3 separate regions of the Homo sapiens genome follow, and all the other regions are reported to be linked to region 2. The links are microRNA targets in miRTarBase. Many come from high-throughput screens and were not tested one by one. Region 2 holds a microRNA gene; each other region holds the end of a gene's coding sequence.
Evidence for each region. The annotated mature microRNA hsa-miR-1587 reads UUGGGCUGGGCUGGGUUGGG and lies in region 2 at 2,573-2,592, opposite strand. An mRNA with a match to its seed (bases 2 to 7 or 8) in the 3' UTR can be bound and repressed. Matches are read on the target gene's strand: a 7mer-m8 pairs with bases 2 to 8, a 7mer-A1 pairs with bases 2 to 7 and ends in A, and an 8mer does both.

Region 1: miRTarBase lists BARX2 as a target of hsa-miR-1587. Seed matches in the 3' UTR shown: 7mer-m8 at 3,550-3,556.
Region 3: the mRNA of SPTBN2 is a reported target of hsa-miR-1587. Seed matches in the 3' UTR shown: 7mer-m8 at 1,570-1,576, 8mer at 1,736-1,743 and 7mer-m8 at 1,848-1,854.

What each region holds. Positions count from the first base shown.
Region 1 is chr11:129,450,834-129,455,043 of GRCh38, reverse strand. It overlaps BARX2 (BARX homeobox 2), which reads right to left. Exons shown (of 4, transcript NM_003658.5): 4 at 2,765-3,908. The coding sequence ends at 3,642. Among named protein-coding and RNA genes, the nearest start is that of BARX2, 77 kb to the right of the region's middle. RefSeq lists an enhancer at 1,226-1,727.
Region 2 is chrX:39,835,944-39,840,153 of GRCh38, reverse strand. It overlaps MIR1587 (microRNA 1587), which reads right to left and starts at 2,593; the gene lies at 2,541-2,593. RefSeq lists a silencer at 156-344.
Region 3 is chr11:66,682,222-66,686,431 of GRCh38, reverse strand. SPTBN2 (spectrin beta, non-erythrocytic 2) reads left to right here. Exons shown (of 38, transcript NM_006946.4): 37 at 1-34; 38 at 328-3,935. The coding sequence ends at 561. Among named protein-coding and RNA genes, the nearest start is that of RBM4B, 6.4 kb to the right of the region's middle. RefSeq lists an enhancer at 154-654.

The DNA.
Region 1 (4,210 bases), not on the chromosome of region 2:
TAAGTGAGAACATGTGGTAATTGGTTTTCTGTTCCTGCGTTAGTTTGCTGAGGATAATGGCCTCCATCCAGCTCCATCCATGTCCCTGCAAAGGACATGATCTTGTTCTTTTTTATGGCTGCATAGTATTCTATGGTGTATATGTAACACATTTTCTTCATCCAGTCTATCATTGATGGGCGTTTAGGTTACTTTCATGTGGAATCTAAAAAAGCTGAACTTACAGAAGCAAAGAGTAAAATGGTGATTGCCAGCGGTAGCGGGTAGAGGGAGGTTGGAGAGATGTTGGTCAAAGGGTACAAAATTTCAGTTAGGAGAAATAAGTTCAAGAGGTGTATTGTACAACATGGTGACTATTGTGAATTATGTATACATGAAAATTGCTGAGAGAGTAGATTTTAAGTGCTTTCACCATAGATAAATATGTGAGGTCATGCATATGTTAATTAGCTTGATTTAGCCATTCCACAATGCATACATGTTTCAAAACATCATGTTATACCCCATAAATATACACAATTTTTATTTGTCAATTAAAAAAATAACATTTTAAAAGGCCCAGCCTGGCCTCTCTGGGTCACCAGGCAAAGCTACGCATAACTGAGGCTGGAAGACAAGTCTTGGGCTTGGACCCTCCAAAACACAAGGAAAGATCATCAGAGGTCTTACCTTCACCAATGAATTCAACCCCTACAGGCAAGACACAAAAGCACAGGTCACATGCCAAGGAGTGAGAGTCGGAGGTCCGAAATAGCTCCCAGAACCCAGCGCTCAGGAATACCACTGTGTATGGACACGTATATTGTGCGGTGACAGTCACTGTCAGGCACCTCAGAAGAGGACATCATGAAAACACATGGACACATAGAGGGGGAAAAAAAATACACTGGCGCCTACCAGAGGGAGGACGGTGGGAGGAGGGAGAGCATCAGGAAAAATAACTAATGGGTACTAGGCTGAAATACCTGGGCAATGAAATCATCTGTACAACGAACCCCCATGACACAAACTTACCGATGTAACAAACCTGCAGATGTACCCCTGAACTTAAAAAAAAAGAAAAGGACATCATGGGAGCCCAGGGCAAGAGATGGAACACCATCCTGGGAAGCCAGCATCCAGACAGGAGGCCTCTCTGGGGTGGCGCGAATGGGACAGAACACTTCCTTAGGATTGACACAGAACTAACACTGACCCACCGGCTTACTTTGGCCATTGTGCACATTCTTTGGCTCATTGTGACACCACCTGGTAGGCAGATCATAAAACTGTACCATGGGGTGGGCTACAGGTGGAGGAGACAGCGTTCTGCCTGCTTGGTGCAAGCAACCTCGCACAGGCAGCTAGGTGTGGTCTGCTCAAACTGGTTCTCAGAAGCCAAATCCTCCCCTCCTTTGTCTATTCACAAGAGTTAAGAAAAAGACTGCTTTCTCTGTTGATCTCAATAACAAAGGGGATGAGGCACTGCCTTGGCAAAGTCAAAATTGCAGTCACTTTCTGATTGTTAATGGAGAAAAGCAGGCGGCCTGCCAGGTGATGGAAAACACGCGGATCTTTCCTGTTTAACTTTGAAATGAATTATGTGATTGTTTTACAGAAGTAGTAACAGATTTGGCTTCCTTGTTGAGGCCACTGTTGAAAGTTGGTATTCTCCAAGCCTGCAACTGGGCAGAGTTTGTGTGTAATTAATAACTGAGAGTCCACTAAATGGGCACTCGGCCCTGTAAGCCATCACAGGTGAGCACGCTGGGGCAGTGATCATAAAGGTGACCCCTCTGAGATCAGGCTCTGGGCCAGAATGCATGAGAATCAGACAAAAAAAAAACAGAGGCAGAGTCCTCCTGCTAGGAAATCTAGAGCCTCCTTCTTTTTGGTCTTAAATTAACGTGGAACACAATTTTTAAATTTAAAATCACCCAGCACATCTAGTCAAGTAGTTCTCAGGTCTTCTTTTGTTAAAAGTTGCAGAGCCCATCATCCAAATGAATACTTAGTCAAGAAACCCTGGAAAGATGAACAAGAAACCAATAAAAATAATTACCTACCGGGGATTCAGGGGAGGAGAGGGCAGGGTGGAAGCAAGTTTTTTTTTGTTTTTTGTTTGTTTGTTTGTTTGTTTGTTTTGAGACAGAGTTCCGCTCTTATTGCCCAGGCTGGAGTGCGATGGCATGATCTTGGCTCACTGCAACCTCCGCCTCCCAGGTTCAAGCGATTCTCCTGCCTCAGCCTCCCAAGTAGCTGGGATTACAGGCATGTACCACCACACCCAGCTAATTTTGTATTTTTAGTAGAGACAGGGTTTCTCCATGTTGGTCAGGCTGGTCTCGAACTCCCAACCTCAGGTGATCCGCCTGCCTGGGCCTCCCAAAGTGCTGGGATTACAGGCGTGAGCCACTGCTCCCAGCCCAAGACTTCTTTTTTTATAGTTTTGACTTTTGAAGCATATACATTTCTTACCTCTTTAAAAAAGTAAGACCATTGGACGCCCCAAATGTGAAGCGGCTGAGAAGGGAGCTGCTCTGGCAGAAGGCGGTGGGAGAGGTGGAAGGGAGAGCCTAGCTACTCTGCCCTGTCCTCATCCCGGAGGCTCGGTTCCACTCCCACAGCTCTCAGCACTTGGACACCAATGGCCTGGCCCAATCCTTTGTTTTATAGATGGGGAAAAGGTGGCCCCCCTAGTTTGGTTCACTCTCTGGATCTCTCTTCCCATAGGACACATTCAGGAAGGGTTAGATACACTCCTCAGAAGACACAAAACACTCAATCCTTTTGAAAGATTTATTTTTAATTAAAAAATAAAAGTTATCTGAACATATCTGCATTGCAGTTTCAGGGATGGCACCTTAACCCATTTATGCCGAAGGTCACAAATGTTTTTTATGAAAAATCAGATCTTGGTGATGACCTTGAGCAGTAGGATAGAAATAACTCCCACAAGCTTAGGGTTCCAATAATGGAACCCTAGGCATGAATGGGTAAATGAAGCAAAAAACAAAACAAAACAAAAAAAAAACCAAAGCTTATCAGTTCTTGGGTCTTATGACCATCTTATAATGGGTACAAAGGCACACGTGTCTTCAAACAAACTTGATTCAGAAACATTTCTAACAACTCAGAACTACCCCCATGTTTTTGCCCACCCTCACCCCCCCAAAAAAATACAACCAAAAACATTAAATTCTTTTTTAAAACTACAGAAATAAGTGCTGAGTCAGCAAGGAACCTGGGCATGCTGCCCACATGCCGCCACGTCTCTCTGCTTTGATGACTGGCTGCCCAGAGGTCAGGAGGGAGAGAGCTAAGCACTTTCCACTGCATGCTAGGATATAGGGCTTGCAACATAGACCCAGCCCTACAGCCGTCACCCCAGCTGGGGCAGGCAGCTCCTAGGCGCTCTCTCCCTTAATCAAGGGCATCCACAGCTAAAGCAGCCTTTCAGGAGGTGACAGGCCCAAGACAAGCAAGTCTTTGTCAAATGCTTGCGATGACAAGGCCAATGGTAACTGTGGGAGGGAGGGAGACGGGTAGATCTCTTCGCCCGCAGTTTACTGGGCTGCTGGAAGGTTTTCTCTCCCTACTCTCCCTGCCTTCTCTCTTTTCCCTTCTCCCCAGTCTCCCTCTTCCCTCAAAAGGGTTTTACTTTAGCTTAATGGTGGGGGTTCCGAAGAGGGTATTGGCAACTCCTGGGGCGGGTCTGGTGGCTCTGCCATCTCTAAGGGGACATCACGTGCTTTCGGTTCCTGTGCTTCACAGAGCTCCTCCTGCCCCTGAGAGGGCTCCAGCTGCTCCTGACCCTGGGCCTGGCTGTTCATCTTCTCTTCAGCTTCAATCTCTTCTGATGTGGGGATGGAGTTCTTCTTGGGGCGACCTTTGGGTTTTGTGGGTGCTTCCTGTCCACCTTTAAGAACCTACGTGAGTAAAAAATTGTTATTGAATCTAAGAAATAATTCCTTCCCTCCACCTTTCCACTCCCAGTATAACCTCACGTTGCATCTAAACCATCTGTTCCAGCAGTGAAATTGCAGGATTTGGCAAAATATATTCTCAACCCATCACCTCTGGTCTACAAAGACACCTCCATTTTTTAAATGCTCAACGCATTTTTGGTCAACATTATATATTTTGGCATTTAATACAACAATCATAGGCAGCTTCAGAATTCAACTTCAACAATAAGGAAAGAAATGAAAATTAAAATGTTAATGCAATA
Region 2 (4,210 bases):
TCCCCCTCCATCCAGATTTGGTCATTGACCCTGGGAAGTGGGGAGCTATTTGTCCAGGTTTCTGAACCTGGAGGAAGGAGCCCATGAAGGCAAGCTCCTATTTGGAGCTTTAAAGCCAGGACAGATTTATCAGGGTCCTTTACTGCCCCCTCACCCCAGCCCTGTGTCCATGTACCTCTCTCCCCAGTTTACCAATGGCCATATTTCCCTAGCCAGGGGGAGGCCGGGAGCCCACCCAGAACCTCAGAGGGCCTGCAGCCTTCTCAGCTTGACTGGTAAAGGTGGCAGTTCATCTCTTCCATCCTCTGGGGCAGAACCCAAGCGAGGGAATCTCTAAGTGTTCCTCAGGGCCAGGGTGACATGCAGACTTCTGGGTCACCCCTTGTTTTCCTCCCTCCAGCCCTGTCTAAGAAAAAATAAAAAGGCAGAGACATTTTTGTTACCTCATGAACGAAAGAGAAAACATTATGTAACTGGTACATAGCAATAAATAACCAAGGGTGATGGAGTTGGGGAGTGGGAAGGGATGAGACCAATTAACTTGCAATAAACCAGCTGAACCAGGTAGGGGCAGTGTTCCGAGAGAGTCAACACGCAAAACCTGCCCCGGGGTGAGGGTGGGGGGGTCTGGCACCTGCTTAATCAGGTGTGTGCTGCGGGTCTGCTTGGGACACTGGAGGATGCTGGGTGGTAAAATCTGGCAAACTCAAGGGGATGTAAAATCAGAGGGGGACGATTTGGGGGTTCTGCTTCATGGAATAGGGTTGAAAGAATCAGTCATTGGTTTCCTAAGGATGCTTCATCCTGGAGGACTGCTGCTTTTAGACCACAAGAAGTCTTTAAAATGCTCTCTTGTTTCTATTTCCCCCGCAGATGGCATTTGAGGGGGAGAGGATAAGCCAAGGGAAGAGGAAAATCAAAATGCTTTCAGCAGCACGGCTTCCGCATGCTGGAGAGGTGGTGTATGGGGTTGCGGCTTGGCCTGTTTTCTGAAACCTGCAAGGTAGCACCCTGAAGGTAGCTTGTAACCCTCCACTCTCACACCAAGGTAATACCTCCTTCCTGTCTGGCCACCTGTCACAGCCAGTGGAAGTAGGGTTTGGAGGGATGGTTGGGACATCCTTACACAATGTTAGGTGGAGACTTAGTGATGGCTTCGGGGGAAGGCAGAGGGAGTCTCTCTTGCGTCAGGGGGGTGGAAGCACCGCTGCCATGATCAAGCCCTTTGGATGAAAGGAGGGCTGTGAGATTTGCTGCCCAGATGTGGGTTTGCAAATGACCTTGTTGGTCTGTTACCCTGGCCTAGCTCATAGAAGCTTTCTTCTCCTGTGGCTTGGGAGAGAGCCACCGTAAAAGACAAGCTGTGGCTAGTAAGCATCTTCTATGTGCTCTGGACTGTCTCATGCAAGAGCTAGGGCATAGGATCCTCATGATGGCCCTTCAAGAGGGGTTAATCTTGTCGTTGTTGCACTTCTATGAGGAAACAGACCATGTGAGGCTAAGTAACTTGCTCAAGGTCACACAGGGGTGATTGATGGGGTCACCCAGACTGTCTGACTCTTGTGTGGGTATGGCTGCCCTCCTTGTCAGCCGGCGGGGTATAGAGGCTGGCCCTCCATTCTTGATTTGCTCAGTAATGGGGGCAGGACAACTCCACCTCCTTCTTCCCAAAGGAAAGTTGAGCTCATTTTGGAAAGAAAGCAAACAGCCGTTCTCCTCTGGGGCTCTATCCGGGGACAGGGCAGAAAGGAAATCCAGTACACTGCGGAAGGAGTCATTTTTTGGCCTGGTTCTCACCACCCATCTCTAGTTCAAACCCTGCTTTTAGCATATCTGTGTTGATGGGGCAGGGCCTGGGAATCACGATTTGCCTTTAAGAAGTGGATGCACTTGGAGAGGCTGGCGCTTCCACCAACCAGGAAGAGCTGGGGGCACCCTGCTTGCTCTCCGAAACTTCACAGAAAGCCCCAAGAGCTGGGGATGTGGGTTCTGTTCTGGATCTCCAAGAGACGACGTCATGCTAGAATGTTCCCTTCATTTTTGAAAACTGCACTCCTGCCTGGGGCCATCTCGTGTCTTCAATGGCTAAAGTAGATGCTGATTTGGGCAACCAGCTTTCTTTTCTGTTTTGAAAATTAATGCACCTGTGTAGTCACCCAGGCTTGATAGTTGCAACAATAACTCATGGACAAGTTGTGTGACTGGTGGTAGTGACTCCATTTGCTCACACCTCCTTGGATTCAGTCCCTGGTGTAGTTCCCTCCCACACTGACTGTGGGTTTGGCCAGGTGACTTGCTTTGGCCAATGGGACACCATCAACCATGATTAGCAGAGGTTTGAAAAGTGCTTGTGCATTGAGATTTGCCCTCTCACGCTGTTCTTGGGACCCTTACAACTGCCAACATGTGAATGTGCCTGGGTTAGGCAGGTGGAGGTATGTGGCCCAGTCACCACTGCCACCCAGCTGACAACCAGCACCAACCACCAGACACACTGCATGAGGCCATCCTAGACCATTCGGTTCCCAGGTGACCTGCCAGCTGGTCACAGGTGAGTCCAGCAGAAGAACTGCCCAACCCAGCCCAGCCCAAATTGCAGATCTGCAGAATCATGGGCTGATAAATGATTGCTCTTTTAAGCCACTAAGTTTTGGGGTGTTTTTTTATTGTGATAAAATATGCATAACATAGCATTTACCATTTTAACCATTTTTAAACGTACAGTTGAGTGGCATTCAGTACATTCACATTGTGCTACCATCACCACCAGCCATCTGCAGAAGTTTTTCATCATTTGCCGGGGTTCTTTATATATCTAAGCTCACTCACTGATTCACAAGCTGCGGGGGCTGCCTGCACCTCCCTGACTGTCTTGCAGCTGATGAGCTTGTCTCTGAGTGGAGGCTCAGGCTCAGGCACCGAGCTCTGGAGTGAGGCCCAGTTCCAAACTGAAAGAGAACAATGTCCACGGGTCTCGGCTGTAGCCACAGTTTAACACAACCCTGGCTTCCCTCAGGCATGCTCACAAACGATCCTGTTCCTGTGGGTGCAGGGAAGACAGACAAGCAGGGTCTCCACAAGGGAGGCTGCAGACCACAGGCAGACCCGGTGACAGGGGACATGCTGGGACTTGCTGTTTAAAGAGCCACCACCAGGAACTTGGCACCTGACCTTGTGCTCAGGGGTGAGCTGTGACAGCTGCCACACCAGCCCTGCTGTCCTTGCCACTTCTAGCTGTGTGACTTGGGGTGAGTCACTTAAGCTTTCTGAGTCTGTTTTTTTCCCCCATCTGCTAACTGAATGTAATCGTAGTGCCATGTTTTAGGGCAAGGATTAGAGGAGCCAGTGTTGGACACACTAACAGTTGCTTCATTAATTAATATATGGGGCTGGCCAGGATCCCTATTCCCCCTGGCCCCAGACCCCTACCATCTTTCCTCATCCTTACTGGGAAGGGGCCTTTAGAAAGAAAAGAGACAAGGTCGGGCACGGTGGCTCATGCCTGTAATCCCAGCACTTTGGGAGATCACCTGAGGTCAGCAGTTGGAGACCAACCTGGCCAACATGGTGAAACCCTGTCTCTACTAAAAATACAAAAATTAGCTGGTCATGGTGGCACTCGCCTGTAATCCCAGCTACTGGGGAGGCTGAGGCAGGAGAATTGCTTGAACCCAGGAGGTGGAGGTTGCAGTGAGCCAAGATTGTGCCACTGCATTCCAGCCTAGGGGACAGAGCAAGACTCTGTAAAAAAAAAAAAAAAAAAAAAAGAAAAGAAAAGAGAAAGACTTTGTTAGCATCAGAAATTATGCTTTGAGAGGGATCTTCAGTATTAGCTGGAGAAACACTCATTTGTCTTTTAGATACTCACTTCTTGATATTCATGTTAGGACCCTGGGCTAGGCTGACAGTGTATATAAATAAATACGGGGGCTCTGGGAGAGGAGGGAGAGAGCAAGGGCATTTGGGGATGCTGTGGCAGACTGTTGTGTTTATTTTCTTCATCTTCTTATGTAATAGAACCCCTGATTTTTAGTTGGGCATACACTCATCTGGAATAAAGACAATGTTTCCCAGCTTCTCTTATTGCTAGGTATGGCTACATGACTAAATACTAGCCAATTTTATTTCATGTCCTGAGGCATCCTCCAGGAACTTCCTTAAGAGAGAGCTGTGTCACACACTTTGCCCTTTTCCTTCATCCCTCCCAATA
Region 3 (4,210 bases), not on the chromosome of region 2:
TGGAAAAGAATATTTATTCCAGGCCAAGGATGAGGTGAGCTGTCCTTCGTGTTCCTCTCTGTCCGTGCCATTCCAGAAGCTTCCAGCTGCAGACTCCCCTTCTTTCCCTGTCCTCCCTCTTTTTCCTGGTCTTGTCCTTTGTGGTAAGACTGGATGTGTGCGACGGCCGCACCAGGCCGCACTCCCTGTCTAAGCCGGCCACATTCTCCTAATAGCATGAAACAGTCAGCTCACTTTCTGCCTCCTCCTCTTACACTTCCCTGCTGTCCACTGCGGCCAACTCAGCACAGTGTCCTTGAAGCTGATTGAGGGTCTTTCCATCCACAGGCAGAGATGAGCTCGTGGCTACGGGTGGTGAATGCAGCCATTGCCACAGCGTCTTCTGCCTCTGGAGAGCCTGAAGAGCCGGTGGTGCCCAGCACCACCCGGGGCATGACCCGGGCCATGACCATGCCCCCAGTGTCACCCGTCGGGGCTGAGGGGCCTGTTGTGCTCCGCAGCAAAGACGGCAGAGAACGAGAGCGAGAAAAACGCTTCAGCTTCTTTAAGAAGAACAAGTAGTTGGGGGCAAGGTCCCAGGCCAACTCCCTCCCTCCGTTCAGGAAACTGCCAGGGACAGTCGACAGGGACCGCCCTCTTGTCAGGACAACTGCCTGCTGCTAGGGTCTGTTGCCAAGGTCAACCCATCACCAGGAACTGTCACTGGGGACGAGTCCATGTTCCCAAGGGCAGCCCTTCTCTTCTGCTGTTTAATTCCAGACTGGTGGTGGGACCCAGGTAACCCCCTCTCCCACCCCCGCCGACTTCTCCCCTTTCCCCAGCCTCGTGCCTCTGTCCCTCACCACGGTGTGGACAGTGCCGCACCCTCAACATAGGCCATGTGGGGAGTGGCTGCCCCTGCCTCAGGGTCATTCTCCTGCCATGCGAGGGCACTCGCCTTCTGCCTTCTGGTTCCTCACCCCTCAGACCAGCCAGGAACCTCTCAGAGCTGAAGCAGGCCCTGGGGGCAGAAGTGCCAGATGACAGTCAGAGGCGCAGGAGCCCTCCCTCCCCACCCCCACCCTGTAACTCCAGCTGCCACTCCATCTCCAGCTGCTCTCAATGGCTTCCAGGTGTGTTGTTCGGGGACAGCCACCGCCTTGAGTCTGGCCAAGGAGGTGATTAAACAGCTCAGCTTCTCTCACCGCCTCTGGGTGTCTTTGCTTTCCTGACCACAGCCTCTCTGCCCAAGCCTGTGTCCTCTCCTTCCGTTCTGGTCTCCTTCATCTCACGTTTCCCCAGCCTCCAAGCTCTTGAAGAGCCGTGTCACACTGAGAGCTTCCCTGACCTGGTCTCATTTCCCTCTGACAGTGACCTCCAGTGTGCTGGGTTGACCAATGCCAAGCCTCTTTTTAAACCAAAGTAGTTCACCATGGGTTGGGATGATGTCAACAAGCAGTATTCATGTTAAAAAGCAATGAGGGACTCCTTCCCTGGTGCACAATTTTCTTCACTTGTGATCTCTAAACTGTTTTCAAATTGGAAGACTGGGAAGCATTGCTACAGCCCCAGCCAGTCTCAGCCACTGCTCAGCCCAGTGGTGGAAAGCTGAGCACACAGCGGGTGCTTACTGCCCCCACTTGCCGTCTGCTCTCCAGTAGATCAAGGGACCTCAGACAGGGATCTGAGAAGTGGCAGGTTCCAATAAACTGATCAACAGAATGAAGTCACTCTGGGAAGCCATGAGGTGACTTTACAGCCCAAGCATGTAAATATACACACAGAGGATAATATATATTCTTTTTTTTTTTTTTTTTTGAGACAGAGTCTCACTCTGTCAGCCAAGCTGGACTGCAGTGGCGCAATCACAGCCCATTGCAACCTCCACCTCCTGGGTTCAAGCAATCCTCCCACCTCAGCCTCCCGAGTAGCCTGAACCACAGGCACATGCCATCATACCCGACTAAGTCTGTTTGTTTTTTGTAGAGACGGGGTCTCACTATGTTGCCCAGGTCGGTCTCGAATTCCTGGGCCCAAGTGATTCTCTCACCTTGGCCTCAAACTGTTGGGATTACAGGCGTGAGCCACCATGCCCAGCTGAGACTACCTTCTGGATCTGATGAAGTATTAGAAAGGAGCGGGTGGCTTCTCCTTTGTCTCTGGTTTGGCAATCGGAGCTTTCAGGGCACAGTGTTTGTCTCCAGATGTTGATGGAAGTGGGCACTCCTTGGTGGCCTCCAACAGGAAAAGCGTGTTCTTTCATTGTTTCCTATACACACAGACAACCGTTTTTCCAGGAAGGCAGCCCCATCTTTAGTCATTGACTGCGGGCCTATCATCAGTCATGACGAAGACCGAGTTAGGTGTGTGCAGGCCCAGAACTAGCACATCACAGCCCCAGAGTGGGCTCCAAACCGGTAGACCAGAGAGCCTGCAGGATAATTTCCCCCTTAAGATGGGTAGATTTACTGTTCCACAGCCAACAGGTGGATACGCGTAACTAGAACAATCTGTCATGGGACTAAGTGGAAGAATCCATCAGCACTACACAGCATCTTTTCTTCAAATACAACTGTAAAATCTCCACTGAAGAGACAGTCATACCTTGGGGGTGCTCAGGGAATCTAGGTATTTGCACTCCAAGCTGGCAAGCCTGGGGGCACTGAAGGGAAACAATAATTGGAAATGTCAGAAGGAAATGTATATGGAGAAATTAATAGAGAAATGATTATTTTAACACGACACGTAAGTGTAAATAGGACAGCCAATTGAAGCAGTCCTGCAGTAGGGGCAGGCATTGTCAACGGAGAGGTGAGACTGAAGACCCCGAGCAGCATCTGCATATGCGGCAGCAGGACTTCAGGGCATGATTCCTTAAGAACAGGACATAGAAGAGGGGAAGCATAGTGTCAGGAATTAAGTCAGAAAACACCTTCAGCTGTGAGTGGAAGAAAGAAAAAATTCCAGGAAAGACAACAGGATGGAATGGGGCGGTGAGGGCTATGAGACAAGTTAGACACAAAAATACAATAAATGCAGGCAGCACAAATCAATGGAGAGAGATGGCAGATAAAAATGGATTACTTGGGCCGGGCGCGGTGGCTCACGCCTGTAATCCCAGCACTTTGGGAGGCCGAGGCGGGCGGATCACGAGGTCAGGAGATCGAGACCATCCCGGCTAAAACGGTGAAACCCCGTCTCTACTAAAAATACAAAAATTAGCCGGGCGTAGTGGCGGGCGCCTGTAGTCCCAGCTACTTGGGAGGCTGAGGCAGGAGAATGGCGTGAACCCGGGAGGCGGAGCTTGCAGTGAGCCGAGATGCCGCCACTGCGCTCCAGCCTGGGTGACAGAGCGAGACTCCATCTCAAAAAAAAAAAAAAAAAAAAAATGGATTACTTGGCCAGGCATGGTGGTTCACGCTTATAATCCCAGCACTTTGGGAAGCCGAGGTGAGTGGGTCACTTGAGCTCAGGAGTTCAAGACCAGCCTGGGCAACATGGTGAAACCCCATCTCTACAAAAATTAGCCAGGTGTAGTGGCATGTGCCTGTAGTCTCAGCTACTTGGGAGGCTGAGGCAGGAGCATTGCTTGAACCTGGGAAGCAGAGGTTACAGTGAGCCGAGATCATGCCACTGCACTCCAGTCTAGGCAATAAAGTGAGACCCTGTCTCAAAAAAAAAAAAATAGGATTATGTAGAGAAAAATATATTTGCATTCTTAACATCACCTACAAGAGTGGACTTTAGGTCCATGCTGTCCACAGCAGCAGCCACCCAGCCATGTGTGGCTACTGAGATGTAGCCAAACCAAGTGTGTCATGACTCTGAAACACCAGGTATGAAGCATGGAAGAGGACAACAACTTTAAATACCTTAATTTTTATATTGATTATGTGTTGAAATAATATTTTAGATATATTGGGTTTCAAAAGTATCATTAAAGTGAATTTCAACTATTTTGATGACTTTTTAAATGTGTTTGCTGGAAATTTTAAAATTGCATATGTAGCTAACATATTTTTATTGGATAGCACTGCTATAAATGGGCTCCAGACCTAAATGCAAAAGGCAAAAAATATGTTAATAGGCCGGGTACAGTGGCTCACGCCTGTGATCCCAGCACTTTGGGAGGCCAAGGCGGGCAGATCACCTGAGGTCAGGAGTTCGAGACCAGCCTGGCCAATATAGTGAAACCCCATCTCTACTAAAAATACAAAAATTAGCCGGGCGT